Linked DNA regions of Homo sapiens: region 1 is linked to region 2. The links come from fine-mapping of genetic effects on gene expression. A gene starts in region 2. The other region holds a variant in brackets. All regions are shown on one strand. Distances are from middle to middle. Region 1 overlaps TP73 (tumor protein p73). Region 2 holds the start of TP73 (tumor protein p73).

Region 1 (2,893 bases), 21 kb after region 2:
AGCGGGCGTGTCCCAGACCCCTTAGAGAAAAGCCCAGAGCCAGGGGTGAGGGGTATGTGTAGGGTGGGGACATCTCAGAGTGGAGCATCCCCACCAAGGGTGTCCAGAGGAGGGTGGCCAGGTGGGGACAGCAGCTTGAGAAGGGTCATTCTCTCTTGGTTGGAGGAGTGGAAGTGCTTCTCTGGGGAAAGAAAGAAGATTCTGGAGGACAGCACAGGCACTTCCAACATGGGCGCTGGCCGCACAAAGGCTAGTGACACCCGGTGTGATCCCTTGGGGTAGAAAGGGGGTGTGAGAGGAGGATCGGAGGGGGCAGAGGACAGGGATGTGTCTGTGCAGAACGAGGCTGTGGCAGCTCCAGCGAAGGCGGCTGCGGCCCCATCAGTCACCTGCCCTGCTGAGGGCAGCGCTGTACTCATCACCTGTGAACACAGGTATCGACTCAGACACCCACTCTGGCCATAAGCTCCGCTCTGTCCCAGCCCTGGACCCCTCACCCCCTATCCTTGGCAGTCGGTCCTCTGGGTCTTCTTCCTGTGCCCACTGTGCTGGTCTGAACCTCCCTTAGTGACAGATCTGCTCCTACCACCCCCGCCAGGGTCGCCCTTCCTCTAACAGGTGGGCTCCTGGCAGGAAACATCACCAAGCTCAGCGCCCCAGTTCCCTGACAGGGCCCCACTTCCCTCCTGCCGCCAACCTCGTCCCCCCAAGGGCCATGTCCCTGCCCACCCCTTCCACCCCTTTCTTAGAGGAAGCTCAGCCCATCAGGCCGCTCATGCTTCTGACCCCACCTCCAAACCCTCCTGACCCGCTTACCCCCAGGAGCACCGCCCACTCCAAGGCGCAAGCAAGCTGGGGCTGGGGTGCAGACTTCTCTTCCACCACCCACCCTCCTCATACCCAGCCTCTGAGGGCCTCACAGACATACATGATTTGCCTCCAGTGGGCCAGGGTTATCTGTTTACCGCGTTGCATGCCCCCGGGCATGGAGCTGGCACCGGCTGCCGCTGCAACTGGGCACTACCCGTTTCGAGGACGCCTCATTCCCTGAGAGACTGAGGATAGGCTGGTGCTCTGCAAAAGGGTGCGGAGACCACTGTAAAAGTGGGGTGAGACACGCGTGCTGACCATGAAATGGAGAGGCACTCGAAGGAGCCAGGGACCCGGCAGCCAGCAGACCCCACCTTTCCGCCCCCGTGTGTGCAGTTCTGTCGCTCAGCCTGGTGCCTTTGGGACCCGGGCCTCATTGGTTCTTCCTCCACTGCCACCACCTGATACTAAATAACCGTCGGTCAATGGCAACTCGATACGGTTTATGGGGCATCCACGGTGTGCCCAGATAGAGGAGTGCTTTCGCTTTTGATATGCGTAGAGTTACTTCATTCCACCTAGCGCTTCTAGGAGGCACTACAATTATCTCCATTTTACAGACAAGGAAACAGAGGCTCAGAATGGGCAAGACATCTATCTGAGGTCACACAGCTAGAGCGCGGCAGAGGTGGGCTGCGTGGGCAGAGCAGGAGAGGGAACTGGAGTGTGTGCCCGGCAGTGCTGGGCTTCAGGGCACGAAGCGGTGGGGCAGGAAT[C/T]ATGTGTCTTGGTATGACCCAAACACATATATGACAGCAAGAAGGCCTGGGCAGGCAGCAGAGGACAAGGCGGGCCTCTTGGATGTCTGGATGTGGATTGGGCCTCAATGTACCGGTGAAGATAGATGGACAGGCAGGGGATTTCCAGAGAGGGGCTTCCCAGGCAGGGTGCGGGGTGTGGCTGTGCGGTGGGAACACGGACTGGGGAGGGGATTGCAGCCGGGCCCGTGCCTCCCTTGCTCAGCTCCAGGTCAGGCCAGGGTAGAGCCAGGCTGCTGGGTTCGACCTCCACCCTGACCAGCTGTGTGCCCATGGAGGGCTGGTCTTCCCTCTCTGTGCATGTCTCCTGGTTGGTAACAGGTGTGTGGCCTCACTGGGCCGTCGTGGGGTGGCTGGAATCCCCGGGAATTAGCCATGCTTTGGTGTTTCTACATTTCACTTGGCTGAGTGTGAACTGACCCAGGAAGCTGGTTGGGGGCACCCCCACCCACGGGGGGTCGGGCATTTTGGTTTGGTCATGGCCTCAAAGCTTCTGGGGTGAGGCTCAGGGATTCCCCCAGACTGTCCTGGGCATCTGCCTCCCCTCCCCTCCCGCTTCCCGTGGGCCACGGCCCAGGAGAGAGAGGGCAGCTTGCTCAGGCACCTCCAGCTGTCCGCATATTTCACACGGTGCACGCTACCCCACCGTGGGAGGCTGTGTTTGTCTTTCATCCCCATGCTGGGCTTCCCCAAACTAGGGGAGTGGGGCAGCAGGCGTGCCATCTGTGGCGGTGAGGGGGGCTCTCAGCCGCATCCTCCTCACCAGGCCCTGCGGACAGGCCTTCGTCCCTGCCCCTGACCTGCTGACGAAGCCGTCCTGGCAACCCTGTCTGAAGGACCTGGCCCCATCGTACCCACAGAGGGAGGCCACATGGTCCTTAGCCTCTGTCGGGAGGGGCAGGCAATGCTGGCAGAGGGCCTTGCCCCTGAGAGGGAGGCCCTCCTGGCCCTCACTCCGGGGGACCCCTGTCCTTGGCCCCAGCCTGCCAAGCGAGAGCGGCCCCTCTTCTTGCGGTGGCTGGAGGGGAGAGTGAGGCCCCTTGGCACAGAGGGCCCCAGGAGGCTGGGCTCTGATGACGCCCTGCAGGAATTCCGCTGGGCTGCTGCCTGGGAGAGCCGCTGTCTCACACAGGGCCAGCCTGCCTGGCTTCATTCTGGTGCGCTGACCGCCCGACCCCTCTGCCCAGGCGGGGGCTCTTCTGGGTTCTGGGTCCTGGGACCTGCCTGAGTCCCTGGGAAAAGGGCACAAGGGGATTGAGACGGTCTCC
Region 2 (2,893 bases):
GGGCCCCCCAGATCGCGCAGACCCTGACATCCCCGCCTGGCCCTGGGTTCTGGGAGCTGAGAGCCGGCCAGGGTCCTGCTCGTACCTCCGGGCGCCCAGCCTCGGGTCTGCTCCCCGCGGACGCCCCAACCTCCCCGGCCGAATGGATGGTGGTGCGCGCGCGTCCTACTCCGGCGGTGCCGGCCTTTTCTGTTGCCAAAACTAGACCCAAACCTCTGCATGGGATTCGTCTTTGGGTCCCCACCCCGTGCGCCCAGCAAACAGTGGGTGAGCCATGAAGATGTGCGAGTCAGCCGGACCCTCCCCGTCAGGCGCGGACCCGCTGCGGCCAGAGAACCCAGTCTGCGCCAGCCCGGCTCGCTCGCGAAGCCACGGGCTTCACTGACGCGACTTTCCAAGACGTGGGGGTCACCATGGGCAGAGGACATCGGTTCGGAGCCAGATCACGGGCCCCATAAGCATCAGACCATAAGCAGCGCCGCCACTGAGAGCCGCTCGGAACTCGCCCAGCATGTCGGGTCCCCTAGCCAGGGCCTGGTGTACGTGGTCGAGGGCCCTGGAAGCCCCGATGGCCTAGGAGGAGCAGGCGGGCGGGGCGGCGGGTGTCGCTGGCCGGTAGAGAGCTTCGGCCTGACCTAGCGCAGGTCTGGTGCGCGCAGAGAACAACTCCAAGCGCACCGACGCCCGCGAGCTCCTTCCAAACACCGAACGGGATCCAGAGCCCGAGCCCACAGGCGGCGGCCGGGGGAGGGAGCAGGGTGCTGGCCGCCGCCCGGGAGTGTTCGCGTCCTGGGTGACCCCTGGAAGGACGTGGGGCCCAAACTCCGGCTGGGGTTGGGAGAGCAGCCCCCAGAGGCTCTCCGCGGGATCCTCTGCCGGGCGGGACCGTGGCTCCACAGGAGAAGTGGGTGGCAAGCCCTGCTTGGCGGAAAGCAGCCGTTCCCCTCCTCCTGGGCCTGGGGCGGCGCCCCTCACCCCTGTTCCCCGCCCCTCACCCCTGTTCCCCGCCGGCCACATCCCCTGCCCCTTGGATTCCAAGCGCCCCGCGCGCCGAGGAGCCCAGCGCTAGTGGCGGCGGCCAGGAGAGACCCGGGTGTCAGGAAAGATGGGCCGTCTGGGGGACAGCAGGGAGTCCGGGGGAAACGCAGGCGTCGGGCACAGAGTCGGCACCGGCGTCCCCAGCTCTGCCGAAGATCGCGGTCGGGTCTGGCCCGCGGGAGGGGCCCTGGCGCCGGACCTGCTTCGGCCCTGCGTGGGCGGCCTCGCCGGGCTCTGCAGGAGCGACGCGCGCCAAAAGGCGGCGGGAAGGAGGCGGGGCAGAGCGCGCCCGGGACCCCGACTTGGACGCGGCCAGCTGGAGAGGCGGAGCGCCGGGAGGAGACCTTGGCCCCGCCGCGACTCGGTGGCCCGCGCTGCCTTCCCGCGCGCCGGGCTAAAAAGGCGCTAACGCCCGCGGCCGCCTACTCCCCGCGGCGCCTCCCCTCCCCGCGCCCATATAACCCGCCTAGGGGCCGGGCAGCCCGCCCTGCCTCCCCGCCCGCGCACCCGCCCGGAGGCTCGCGCGCCCGCGAAGGGGACGCAGCGAAACCGGGGCCCGCGCCAGGCCAGCCGGGACGGACGCCGATGCCCGGGGCTGCGACGGCTGCAGGTAGGAGGCCCAGGGCCGGGGGGCGGTTCGGCTCCGCGGGCGGGGGCTGGAGCGCAGCGCTGGGCAGGCACCTGGGCTCGCAGCTCCGAAGCTGGGAGGTGAGGGGAGAGCGATCGGGGACGAGCTGGGACAAGGCGACACAGGGGCTCCCTCGGAGTTGGATCGGCCCCTGGGACTTGGCGCTCGCGAGAGGCTGGAGCGGCCAGAGTCTAGCCTGCGAGGAGACGCGGGTCCTGCCCTCAGCGCCGGCCGCCTTTGGCGCCAAAGACAGCCCCGCAGGGGTTCCGGGAGGGCCCTCCTCCTGCTGTCCCCTCTCCACCCCGGGCTCCGAGGGCCGTTGGGAGGGTAACCCCGGGAAGAGGCCGGGGTGCGGGGCGCGGGTGCAGGTGGAAATCGCCAGCAAGCTCCTCCCCGCCCGCGCGCTCCCTCCGACCTGCAGGGCTGTGCCAATCCCGAGGCCTCAGCTTCCCTGAGGAGCCAGGGCCAGGCCCCCCTCTGGACAGGGAGAAGGATCTGGGCGGGGGCCTTGACCCATGGAGTTGGTTACTAAGCGGTTTCGATGGTTTCCCGAGGGACAGCTCCCTGTGGCTCTGAGTTTGTCTGTCGAGGGCTCCTGGCCTGTCTCCGGAGCGGTCCCAGGTAGAGAAAGCCCGTGAAGAAATGGCCCGGGCCGGCCTGGAGGGAGACACCTCACGCCCCCTTAGCTCCTGGGCCGCCTCCTCCTGCAGCCCCTGCCTTTCCCGGGGCTTGGACTTGGGGAGCGATGATTACCTTTGCTCAGCTTGTATTTTGGCCTGGACGCTAGGAGATAAGCCCATGTAGTATGCACACGTCTGCTACATAAACAGGGGACAGATAGACGATCTTCAACCAGCAAGGGTGCAGGGAAAAGCAATGCACCCCAAACTTCTGACCAGAGGTCATTTGCTTCCAAAGATGCTGCCATCTGTTTATTCACTGTCTGGACATTTGGAAATGGCTCAGGCTCATTAACACAATGCTTTGGTTTTTGTTGTTTTGTTTTTTGTTGCTGTCATTGCTGTTTATTTGTTCAGCCTTAGCTCTGGGGGAGGAGTAAACAAAGCGCGTGGCCTCTGGCACTTACTGAGCGCTGAGCCACCCCTCTTTGGATTTATTCGGGGAAAGATTAAAAAGCATTTCATTAAGAACAGGACACGGTGTTTGAAATGTTGCCATATATGAATGTATGCATTACGTATGTAGTTTTTAAAATAAGATAAAAAG

Evidence for each region. PIP is the estimated chance that this variant, and not a neighbour inherited with it, causes the effect.
Region 1: its variant is fine-mapped to the expression of TP73 in whole blood (TOPMed, PIP 0.97).

Annotation. Positions count from the first base shown.
Region 1 is chr1:3,672,103-3,674,995 of GRCh38, forward strand. All of the region lies in intron 1 of TP73 (tumor protein p73), which reads left to right. Among named protein-coding and RNA genes, the nearest start is that of TP73-AS3, 4.6 kb to the left of the region's middle. RefSeq lists an enhancer at 1,607-1,826. The variant C/T (reference allele first, on the strand shown) is at 1,587.
Region 2 is chr1:3,650,994-3,653,886 of GRCh38, forward strand. It overlaps TP73 (tumor protein p73), which reads left to right and starts at 1,523. Exons shown (of 14, transcript NM_005427.4): 1 at 1,523-1,648. RefSeq lists an enhancer at 1-174 and a silencer at 1,134-2,083.